Linked DNA regions of Homo sapiens: all the other regions are linked to region 2. Evidence: fine-mapped expression QTL. A gene starts in region 2. Each other region holds a variant in brackets. All regions are shown on one strand. Distances are from middle to middle.

Evidence for each region. PIP is the estimated chance that this variant, and not a neighbour inherited with it, causes the effect. A credible set is the group of variants that fine-mapping cannot tell apart.
Region 1: its variant is the best candidate, but not a certain one, in a credible set for the expression of APBB2 in lung (TOPMed, PIP 0.63).
Region 3: its variant is the best candidate, but not a certain one, in a credible set for the expression of APBB2 in aorta (GTEx, PIP 0.54).

The regions. Positions count from the first base shown.
Region 1 is chr4:40,991,517-40,995,637 of GRCh38, forward strand. All of the region lies in intron 6 of APBB2 (amyloid beta precursor protein binding family B member 2), which reads right to left. Among named protein-coding and RNA genes, the nearest start is that of APBB2, 220 kb to the right of the region's middle. The variant G/A (reference allele first, on the strand shown) is at 1,729.
Region 2 is chr4:41,212,274-41,216,394 of GRCh38, forward strand. It overlaps APBB2 (amyloid beta precursor protein binding family B member 2), which reads right to left and starts at 2,269. Exons shown (of 18, transcript NM_004307.2): 1 at 2,132-2,269. RefSeq lists an enhancer at 562-641 and silencers at 1,644-1,953, 2,364-2,533.
Region 3 is chr4:40,934,225-40,938,345 of GRCh38, forward strand. It overlaps APBB2 (amyloid beta precursor protein binding family B member 2), which reads right to left. Exons shown (of 18, transcript NM_004307.2): 8 at 853-915; 9 at 390-475; 10 at 232-292. Among named protein-coding and RNA genes, the nearest start is that of NSUN7, 190 kb to the left of the region's middle. The variant T/G (reference allele first, on the strand shown) is at 2,382.

The DNA.
Region 1 (4,121 bases), 220 kb before region 2:
TATGTATCCAAAAAGTACAGGGGGAAAAAAAACCTATAGTGTTCTAACTATAGCAATTTCCTCCTGCTTTTATCCCTGTGTCTGAAGTGAGGTCATTTTTGTTTGTTTTTGGCAAGTGAACAGAGAAAAGAAGAAAGAAAAACACACACACACACCCTAGACTTTTCACCCCCTCCTCCTAAAACAGACACACTTGTTAATTTACAGCTTTGAAAATCATCTGGGTAGTTCTTCCATAATTCACCATCTTCCTTGGTTTTCTAGGATTTTTTTTAGAACCTTCAGACCCCAGAGGGCATTTCACTTGAAGATGCTACTCGTCTCATCCCTTCAGAAGGTGGGCTGAGGTTTCCTTAAGAATCTTCTATGAGAGTGGTCTGCAATTAGAAAGTTATAACAATTCTACCTGTGAGGGTGTTCTACAATCAGAACACTGCTCTCACTCTCCCTCCTCCTCCCCATCTCTCTCTCTCACACTCACGCACAGACACCACACACACCACACTCACACTGAAATTAAGAGTGAAAACTGTTAAGGCTAAAAATACTACAGAGAGAAAAGCATCTTTGCTAACACTTAATACTCAGAACAACTTTTTGAAAGTGAAAATGACGATGCTTTACCTGACTGATTATCAATGCAGCTGCCTTTTTTGTTTGTTGCTTGTTTTTAAGAGACAGGGTCTCACTCTGTTGCACAAGCTGGAAGCCAGTGGCATAATTATAGCCTTGACCACCTGGGCCCAAGTGACATCCTCTGCCTCAGCCTCCCGAGTAGCTGGTACTAAAGGTGCACGGCACTACACTTAGCTAATTTTATTTATTTATTTATTTTTGGTAGAGATGGGGGGGGGTCTTTCTATGTTGCCCATGCTGGTCTCAAACTCCTAGCCTCAAACTATCCTCCCACCTCAGCCTCCCAAAGCACTGGGATTACAGGTGTGAGCCACTGCACCAGATTGACACAGCTTTTTAGTTCGCTTCAGCAGCTATAGATTTACCTTCTGATGTAGTTAAACAACATTTTAGATACGTGCTGAACAGCAGTCTTGGACACCTCATTAATATGTAGTAAGGAAGAGAGCAAACCAACACTTGGAAAATTGTTCAATGAGGTGTGTGAAATGACTGGATGGAAACGCTGGTAACCCCTGGAAGTAACGCGGGAAGTATGAAGCCAGCGAGCAGGAGTATCACGAGCAGAAGACCGACCCCCGATGTCCAGGCCAGGGAGCTGCACCACCCTCAGGACCCATCACCTTCCTCACCCCTTCAAGTAAGACCGAGGCTCATGGGCAATGACGAACAAGCCAAACCACAGGGCCGGATGGAGATAGGCCGGCCTGCCATGTGCAGGATCTCTACGTTGTGAAACACTGTCTTCCTGCCTACTTGTTCTAGTCTACTCTGCTGCTTATCTGAAGTTATTTTCTGTTTGTGTACACAATCGTAGTCCCTCTTTTACTCTCTCTCTGTGCTTTTCCTTCAGTGGGAGAATTAATTTTCCATACCAGAATATTTATAAAATCCAATTTTTGCTGAGCCCTTACTACATGGCAATCACTACGTTCTGTGCCCCACATGTCTTGTTTCAGTTAATCATCACAACCACCCCACAAGGCAGAGACTATTATTAACCCTATTTGACAGAGGAGGAAACGTATGGTGTTAAGTGACTCAGCCACAATCATCCATTTAGTAATAGCACAGCTGGGATTTAAATATTCA[G/A]TGTTCATAGTGCAGTAAAGCTTATGGCACAAATTCCATTTTAGGGACAAGAACAAGAGAAGAGATTTCCAGTAGTTTAATTTCTGGAGCACAGGAGCAATTAAGAACTCTTCTCTCTTTTTTTTTTTTTTTTTTTTTTTTAACAAAAATGTTTTTTGAGACAGGGTTACCCTTTGTCTCCCAGGCTGAAGTGCAGTGGTGTGATCTTGGCTCACTGCAGCCTTGACCTCCGGGGCTCAAGGAGATCCTCCCACCTCAGCTTCCTGAGTAGCTGGGACTACAGGCACGTGCCATCATACCCAGCTAATTTTTTGTTTATTTTTTATAGAGATGAAGTCTCATTATGTTGCCCAGGCTGGTCTCAAACTCCTGGCCTCAAGCAATCCTCCTGCCTCAACCTCCCAAAGTGCTGGGATTACAGCATAAGCCATCATGCCTGGCCACTTCTACTTGATTCTATCAAAAACAAAAGAAAATATTATTTTTTAAAAGAAAATAAATGTTTTCCACGTTTTTCATTAAGGCTGTGATTCTTGTTAAATGTTAGCCAGATCAGTATCCATTATAATAGGAACACAGCACTTCAAACACAACAGAAGGCCCTAACTAAAGCAGTTCCTGTGTCAGAATCTGAGCCATGCTTCTCAAATGATGCATAGAGGAGGAAGTTAAAATGCAGGTTCCTGAGACCCACTACCTGCGTCTGAGTCTGTAAGGCACAGGTAGGGCCCAGGTATCTACATTTAAAGAAACACCTAGGAGAGGCTGGGCGCGGTAGCTCACACCTGTAATCCCAGCACTTTGGGAGGCCAAGGCAGGCAGATCACAAGGTCAGAAGATCAAGACCATCCTGTGAATGGTGAAGCCCCGTCTCTACTAAAAATTACAAAAAATTAGCCGGGCACGGTAGCGGGCGCCTGTAGTCCCAGCTACTCGGGAGGCTGAGGAAGGAGAATGGCGTGAACCTGGGAGGTGGAGCTTGCAGTGAGCCGAGATCGCGCCACTGCACTCCAGCCTGGGCAACAGAGCAAGACTCATCTCAAAAAAAAAAAAAAGAAACACCTAGGAGTTCTGATGCAGACAGACTACAGGCCAAACTTACTAGCTGCAACGAGATTTTCTCCAAGACTTGCAAATGAAGAAAATAAGATTGCTCTTGAAGTTAAAGTATGATAGTTGAATCAGTCAATGGATCAAAACCAAGAAATGGAGTAAGAGTGAGATAAGATGTCTCCCAAACATAGTATGACTTATCTTTAACTCAGTAGAAAATATTACTGTATCTTGGGCCGGGTGCAGTGACTCATGCCTGTAATCCCAGCACTTTGGGAGGGTGAGGTGGGCAGGATCATGAGGTCAAGAGATTGACACCATCCTGGCTAACATGGTGAAACCCCATCTCTACTAAAAATACAAAATATTAGCCAGGCGTGGTGGCACATGCCTATAGTCCCAGCTACTCGGGAAGCTGAGGGAGGAGAATCGCTTGAACCTGGGAGGCGGAGGTAGCAGTGAGTCAAGATTGTGCCACTACACTCCAGCCTGGGGCGACAGAGCAAGACTCCGGAAAAAAAAAAAAAGAAAAGAAAAGAAGAAAGGAAAAAGGAAGGAAGGAGAGAGAGAAGGAGGGAGGGAGGGAAGGAGGGAAAGAAATAAAGAAGGAAAATATTACTGTATCTTAAGAAAGATTGTATTGATCAAAAATGTAAGTACCTTAAAAAAAAAAGCAATCATTCCCTTTTCTCTGAAGAGGGACTCTTAGGCAATGCACTTCAAGGATTCTAGGTCCCAAGTAGCATCATCTCAAGGGAAAGAAGGACAGCGCGCCTCAGACTATCCCAGCCTGAGACCATTTAAATATTTGATTCATCCAACACCCCTTTGGCTGAAACCATGTTCCCCAAGCAAACAAGCTTATGCTTGGGTTTCCTATGCAGTTGAGTAATTATTTCTATTTGGAAAATAATACACTGGCATTGAGAATGTGCACTGAACATGCAGTACCAAGAAATCTAACACCTAGGAGAGTGGTAATTCTCATAACAAATTAATAGATTCTTATTTTGGCTCCAGTGTTTCTTATTTTGGCTTTAGTATTTCTCGAGAAGTTGATTAATAAGTCCATCCGTCAGAAATGGATCTTTTTTTTGAGACAGAGTCTTGCTCTGTTGCTCAGGCTGGAGTGTAGTGGCACCATCATAGTTTCAAATGCCAGGGTCAAGCGATCTTCTGGCCTTAGCATCCTGAGTAGCTGGGACCACAGGTATGTGCCACTATATCTGGCTAATGTTTAAAAAAAAAAAATTTTTTTTTTTTTTTGAAACAGACTCACTTTGTTGCCCAGGCTGCAGTGCAGTGGCACAAACACAGCTCACTACAGCCTCGACTTCCTG
Region 2 (4,121 bases):
TTTTGGAGTCAGTATTCACATTACTCCAGCTAAGTGTAAACACCAGTATTTTGCACTTTAGCTCATCAAGCTTTCTTTTTTTCAGAAACAGGATCTCACTCTGTTGCCCAGGCTGGAGTGCAGTGGCGTGATCATAGCTCACTACAGCCTCAAACTCCTAGGCTCAAGCAATCCTCCCACCTCACCATCCAGCTTTTCAATTACCACTTTATAAAAATTTCAGAAAGCCAGTTCACATTGGCTCCTTGAAGGTGAATTTATTCAGTTAAAAGTATCCATTAGAAGAGGGAATAAAAGCATAGGACCTAAAAACCTTCTGTGGAAAGGATCTCAACTTTAGAGTCGTCTCTCAAAGGCTCTCAGCAAATATCTAGAGACGTGGTTACATCCAGTTTACGAAGACTGTCGGTGACTTCGGGGTCATACAGTACATGGACAACGAAAGAACAGCAATTGAAATCTTGTACTTGTACCCCACCACCTTCCGCCCTATGATCAACCCACTGTACTCTACTGCCACCTGTGTTCTCTCGGCATTTCCCCAGCCTGGAGGTTTCCCCATTCTCGCCACAAATACCATCCTTCACGAACGATGCCATTTCTAGGATGTTGCAAGTTATGATAAACAACTGTTGAACAAATATTGCTTACAAGCTACAAGTTGAAAACGAGAAGGTTGCTACCTAAGTTCATGAAGAAATCCCCTTTCAAGGATTCCATCTGTTCCTAAAAGGCCAGCCACACAAATTCTAATACTCTGCATTATTATGGCCATTTGGGGACAAGATTTTAAATCTGAAACCATGACAAGAAAAAAAAAAAAAGCAAGATTTAAGAGAGTAAACTCCAGAAACAACAGATCAAACTGCCATTGTGTTTGTTTTTTTTAAATCAGTGAAATATTAAAACAAATGATAAACCCATGCCAACCTCACAAAGTTTCCTCATTCCTTGGAATTCAAACACCACCGATGGCATCATTTTATGATAATCCTTTGGGTATTTCACGTAAGTAATTAGACACAATGTAAAGCCAGTGACTGAGGGACTTAAACAAACTGTCCCCTCCGAGAGCCCAGTTGGAGCTTCCGACACTGACCTTATTCTCCTCTCAATTTTAACCCTCCTCAACCACTCAATCCATCCAAAAACGTCTGTGACAGTCGTGGCTCTAAAACCGCGCAGAACTTGACTACAGAACGGTCGGTGACAACTCCACATATGATTTATCCAAATTAATTTATTTTTTTGAATTCTAGTCCCATGCTCCCTCGGCTGTTTGCCCCGAACCCGTAGTCTACACCACTTCACCGACGTGAAGACCACCTTTCATTGTTTCTATGGGTCTCAGCATCCTTCCCTCCGTCCAGCTCTGTTCTCGCCGCACAAATGTCATTTCTAGCGTACCACCCTCCATTCCGCCCGGTGGGCAGCGCAGGGGCTTTCGGGTCCCAGTGGCCAGTTTCCTGGAGTCGGTCCCCTATGCACAGCCATTTTCTAGTTAAACGCTCTCTCTGCCACCGAGGGGGAAAAGGAACTTTTCCCCCCTTTCATGTCTCATGGGCTGGCCTCTGAACCCCTCGTGGAGAAGCCAACCCCGGCTCCAACTCCCCGGCAGGAGCGCGCTGCCGCCCAGGAGAGACAGCCGAGCGGCACAGCGGAGGCCGGTGCCAGGACAAGGGGGTGTGCGCTCTTCCCGCAGGCGCCCACCCTCACTTTTCCCCTCTGCAGTCCCCACCCGGGCGCACCGCCTCCAACCCGGTCTCCCCCGCCCCAGGCCCTGCCAAGCCGGGGCTGCTGAGGGAAAGAGGGCGCCGGGAAGCGGGAGGGATGGAAGTCAAGGAGAGTGAGCCCGCAGTCGCCGTGCCACTGGCCCTGCGGCGCGGGCGCAGGGCGCACGGGACTCCGCAGCAGGCGCCCCGCTGCAGATGCCGCGGCAGCTGCTGCAGGTGTGGCTGCGGCTGAGCGGGCAGCAGTGGCCGCGGAGCCCCGGGGCCGGGAGCAGAGGAGAAGCCGCCGGGGGAACCCGCAGCCGCTCGCCGCACGCTGCTGCCGCTACCCGGGTGTTTCCCCAGCACTCTCGTGCTGCCCCGGAATCCGGGGCAAAGGCAAGGAAGAAAGCTGGGCTCACCAGTGGTGCGCGCGGCGCTCGCCTCGGCTCCGGCGCCCAGCGGCTCTGCTCCAGTCTCGCCCTTCCCGGAGCGCCCAGATCAGATGCGGTTACAGCGCACTAGCTTCCTACTTGAGACCAGAACGGGCTCCGGCAACTGAGCATGCTCAGTGCCGTTCCGCGAGTCCCGCGCAGGGAGCGGCGCTGACGAGATTCCACTTCTCCAGGCTTTGGCAGCGGCTGCGCGAGGGAAGGCTGGAGGGACCCGGCGGGGAGGGGGCCGAATGGGAGAAAGGCGGGGCCGGGGGGTGGGGGCCGGGCAGAAGGAGGCGGGCCGCGCTCCCAGGGCGACCCCTGCAGGTGGAGGCGGCAGGGCCTGCGGGAGGCACCCTCCCCAATCGCCTGGGAACACGCAGGGAGGCAATGGGTCCCCCAGTAAGACCCAAAGGCAGGACGTGCAGTGCAGCCCGGGTATCCCCTCCGTGTGGCTGGTGTCTGTCTGCACCAAAAGGCAGTTGGGTTACCTTAGCCCTGGCTTTTCTCCCACACGCCAGCATTCCCTTGCAATAGGAAAATGTCCCCACAGGAGAGCTGCCCACACCCACCCAGGCTAACTGCAAGTTGTAGGCGACACCTTCTCCTTCCTTCTACCTCCTATCCCCACCCCCAGGCATATGCCGCACACACACTCTTCTTTGATCCGGAAATCACAAGATAATATCAGGGGAGAGATACAACTGCCGGAGAGGAAAAGGAGGTTTTCCTTTCCATTGCCAATAATATTATCTATAACTCTAATTGTAAGCGTGCAAACAAAGCCCTGATAAGAGTCGAGTCTCAGTAAACGGTAAACCGTGCTCTGCCCCAGACGCTGTGAATGACATCCCCAAAGTATCCTTAGGATTGCTCTTCACCAGGGCAGCGGTTGTCAAACTGGAGCCTGGATCAGAATCGCCTGGAGGGTTTGCTGAAGTACAAATCCCTGAGTCCCAATCTGTGTCTCTGAATGGGTAGATATGTGGTGGGGCCCAAGCATCTGTATATCTAACAAGTTCCCATGGGATGCTGATGCTGCTGGTGTGAGGACTATACACTTTAGAGAACCCTACCCATACACACACACACACACAGTCCTACCAAGGATCTCGAATTAAAAACTCACGTGATTCTTCCTATGAGGACTCTATGCAGTGGGGTGGGCATTACTTTATTCTTTCCTACATGAGTTTATTAAGGATCCACGAGGTCTTGTACTAGGCCTGAGGATAGTGGTGAATTTAAAAGCCCAGGCCCCTGCTTTCATGGAATTTATAGTCCGGCCGGGTGACAGACACCTATCAAATAATCACTCAAAACGGTTATTTCAAACAGGTAGAGTGCTGGGAGGGAAATGCACAAGGTGCGAATAGAGTGTATAGAGGGACCCTCATGCAGACTCAGTGAGGTTGTTACGAAGGGATGGGAGGGGGGCTGCCTTGTGGAAGGTGGTTTCTGACTTTTGCACTCCAATAACCTCTCCAATTAACAATTATCTCCCTCAGACCGAGCTGGAGGCCAGCAATCATGTCCCTCCTTCCTACAACATAAAAACAATACTGTCACAGAGAAATCCCTATAAATTCATGAAAAGTGTTTACTCTTGGGACTGAGTCTCTGCACCCCAAGATCCACCTAACACGTCCGTGGACCAAGGACAGTCGAGGGCCACAGTAGACCTCTTGGGGAAAATACAGGCTCTCTGAACTGGAGAGCCTGTGGTTCTTAGTCTGTGATCTTCAAGGCCAAAGAGGCAAGGAAACCAGCCCAAGACCACCATTCCCGTCAGGAGCGGAGATCGACCAGCCTCCAACCTTGCAGACGGGTCCTCTTTCCAAGGCACTCTATTCCCGGACCTCACAGCTCCCCTCAGATCCCCGGAACCCGGCCTGGCCACCCCGCTCTCTCTCGGGGGTCCGGGGTAGGTGAGCGGAGCCTGCCCCTCCCAGGTCGGTCTCTTCCCGACGGAGAGGAA
Region 3 (4,121 bases), 280 kb before region 2:
CTGACGTAGTGAGATACAGGCAGAGTCTTGATGGTTCTAGAAATCCCCCCAAACCTAACTTAGCCTAGGGGTTTTCTTCAAGTGTCAGGGAGATTAGGAAAGAGAAAATTGAGGGATAATTACTTATTAAATGGCTCTGGGTTGATGGTTTGTAAAAACTGGACAATGATCCAAAGTCATTATTTGGATCTAAGAATATAACCTGGTGGCTGAAAGCAAGTCTTTACAAACCTTGGCTTCTGGGTCACTGTTGATACTACAAGAATCATCATCATCAGGGTGTGGGGCATTTCTAGGCAGAAAAACAGAAAAGTGGACTTAGAATTCTATTGCAAACTATCTGCACAAAGCCATACATTGACAGCAGGTCGATCCTACTAATGTCCTACCTGAGTTTCAAAGATGCATAGCGTAGGGTTGCTCCTTCAAACTCTTTTAAACTGGGGTCCGGGTTAACAGTGGCTGCATGCAAATCCTAGAGGAAAATAGAACCTTGTTAATGTACAATGGGGGAGAAGACCATTCATTGCCTCAAATATCAAAGGGGAGAAACGTCTTCCCAGCAAGAGGCAGAGAGTGTACGTGAGCTTAGGCAGAGAAAGGCATGCAAGGACTGTTGAATGCTGACTGGTGCAAACTCCTGTTCTTACAAAACAACGGGGAACCTAGGGCATTCACAATGGGAGACACCAAAAAAAGGCAACAGGAGTGTGAGCTGAATGCCCCTAGCAAGAAGCCCGATCACTGTGTCCCTGCAGAATGCATGATATTCACAAAGAAGAAAAATATACAGCCACAGCCATGCAGAAAGGATAAAATATTAAATGATCTAAGATCTGACAATATACTTGCCTTCCAAATGTCACTATTAATCTTTCCCCCATTCAGAACAGCAAAATCACTCCATGGCTGTTTCTAGACATATAATTATTCACATAGGAAAAAAGCACATTGATTTAAAGAAAAAGAAAAGAAAAGAAAAAAAAAAAACACAAGACACTGTTGTTAGCATTGATATTCACAAGATGGGTTAGGGAACAAGTTAACTCTAACAGCAACTTGTTGGCTCACTCCCTCTATGTCTAGATTATCACCTGAAGACGAGGGCAGGAGAGTGATGGTGCTTTAATTACTTACCAAATAAATGACTAAACATTATTAGAAGCAGACAGTGAAGTTATTTCCTTAAGGTAATTTTAAAAGCAAACAATATAATTCCAAGTATTCAATAACTAGCATACCTAATTCCATAATAATCATTTTCCTCCCTATAAACCAAACAGAACTGTTTTCTGGTGGTGGGGGTGGAATGAGGGACGGGTACCGTGTTTGTTTGGAAACTAGGGAATGCCCATGGCTGAGGGCCCCAAAAGTTGGGGGTCAAGATATTTTCACTTAAAAGAAAAAAAGGAGAATGATGGGGAGAGAGGGTTAGTGAAGAACACAGACTGACATCAACACTTGGCGGAAATTTAACCTAACAAAAAACAACTCTAAACAGTCTAACATAAATTTCTCTAATTCATAAAAGCTCTACTTTTTTTTTTTTGCTTCAAAAGCTTCTTCACAAATTAATACTTGATCATGAAATGATTTTCTAAACGTAATTATAGTGCAAGGCATGAAGCCTGGCTTTGTTGCGAGAGCTCTTGCAATAACTGATTTCCAAATCTAAACAACTGCTCCATCCACCTCAGACAATGAGAAAATGTCTTTTCTTTCTACTAGGCCTAGTGAATATTCAAGTATTTTTCATCTAAGATTTGGGGAAATAAGCAAGCAAGGCTAATAAAACTCAGGGACAGTCTTGTGAATTGCTTTACTGACTGGTTAGGCAAATCTGTTTGTATAAGAAATCAACCATCAAAACTTTTCAGCTAAATCACTTTTCAACTGAAGTTCTTTGAAAATGAGAAGTGAATAATGACCCATAACTTTTACTCACAACATTGATACAGTTTTAAAAACCACTAAAAGCAGAAAAAAACTAAGCTTAAATGTCTTGTGCGTCGAAAGATGCATTTATTTTGTTTAAAAATTTTTTTGAGACAGGGTCTCACTCTGTCACCCAGGCTGGAGTGCAGTGGCCCAATCACAGCTCACTGTAGCCTTGACCTCCTGGCTCAAGCAATCCTCCTGCCTTGGCCTCCTGAGTAGCTGGGACTATTCAGGTGCATGCTACTACACCTGGCTAATTTTTTAAAACTTTTTTGTTGAGATGGGGGTTCCATTATGCTACCCAGGCTGGTCTTGAACTCCTGAGCTCAAGTGATCCTCCCACTTAGGCCTTCCAAAGTGCTGGGATTACAGGCGTAAGCCATGGCGCCTGGTGCAACATGCACTTACCAAACTCTGCAAGCCTCTCTGAGAGCAAAGACACT[T/G]CAAATTTAGACCCATTATTACTATTGCACATGTGGTGTCATTTTCATTTTTGGTCTAGGCACCTAAACTGCAGCTTTTCAAAATAAAATGGGAACTTAGACCACTATATTTACTTTTAAAAAATAATTTCTCTTAATGAATAAAGGGCAGGAATGTTGCCCAATCCCTTACCTTTCCCCTCACTCTACCCCCAGAAGCAGTGTTCAGTCTTTATGAAGAGAAAATTAATAACCTAGGGCAATCTTAACCTGTTAGCTCGGAGGAGCTATGAACCCCTGAAATGGGTGCGGGGTTTTGTACATGTACATTTTCCTGAGAGAAAGATGCCCAATTTTTCTCATATTTCCAGATGGGCCAGTGACCAATTTCGGTTTGGACCACTGTAGGGCTACTAATATGGATGTGAGATGAGGACCTGAAATATCAAGTACAAAATAAAATTTTAAGCTAGAATTTCTTTTTCAAAAAGAAAACAAGCTTATATGGCCTCAAATTGTCATCACTGTTTACATGTGAGCAATATTTGTTGTTAAGTTGAACTTTAAAAAAGGATAATCAGATGATGAATTAGGAAGACCCAAGATAATTGTGTCTTTGTGGAGAAATTTATAAAGAAACAAGAAAAACAAAGTTACCTCACAAAAAGAATTTCAGAAATTATCCCCAAGGGACCCTATATGTTGAGGCTACAGAAAGTAAAAGAAGAGTATTTTCTAAAACAAGTACTCAGAAAAGTCTTCAGTACCTAATTAAAACAGTTCTCTGCGTGTGTGTGGTTTTTAAAATTTTTAATGCATTTACTCTTTGGACATAAGGGTATCTGTAAAGCAAAAGCTAAAAACAGTATTAAGACTGTCAGAATCCAGCTCTCATGTTATGGAAACATGAGTTAGATGGCAAATGTCCAACAATCACCTTTTACAGATTTAAATAAACAAAGGCTCTGTATAGTGATTTTACAAAAACTTAACACGGGCACTCTTAAGGAAATCCTTTAGCACAAAACTCAGTAAGGAAATGGAAACTGGCATTATATGTGTTATGACTGGGCCAAAGATCTTTTTTCCCCTCCTATATTTACAACTATTCATTTACATCAAATATGACAAACTTTCTCCAATGTATAAGTGACCATAATTTTTCTTTTTTAAAAAATTAAAGTCAATGAAAGACAAAGTCACTTTGTCTTAAATTTTAAGAATTACATGGTCTATTCATCTAACTTTTTTAATTAAGAAGAGAGAATATTTTCTATATTTGGCTAATAAGTTTTGCTAATAATTTTTAGTTAACAAATTTTTAAAAAAGCACAACCCAACAGAGATTCTTTGGTTCTACAGAAAGTCTGTATCCACCCCCGTAGGGGTGGGAGAGATGAAGGAGGAAGAGGAGAGACAAAGAGAAAAACATTAAAAGGGGAAAAAGCAAGTTGGACAATATGCCTCAGGTAAGACAAACACAAAGATGGGGAAAGAGGTGGTAACGGACCAACAGGGACCATCTTCTATGAGCAACAAGCTTCCATGAGCCTGGTAACCCTCCAGGCAATGCAGCTAAAGCCTTGCACAGCTGAGTGACATTCTGGTACCACAGTCATAGCTGGGACACCCTCCTGGTGCTTGTCCTGACCTTGTCCAGGCTGCAACCTCCCTTTCTCTGATTACTTGATCCTGCTCAGTTCTGGGAGAGCCTTGGAGCCTTAGCTCCTCAGAGACAGTGTGTCTAGGGGGACTGACCCA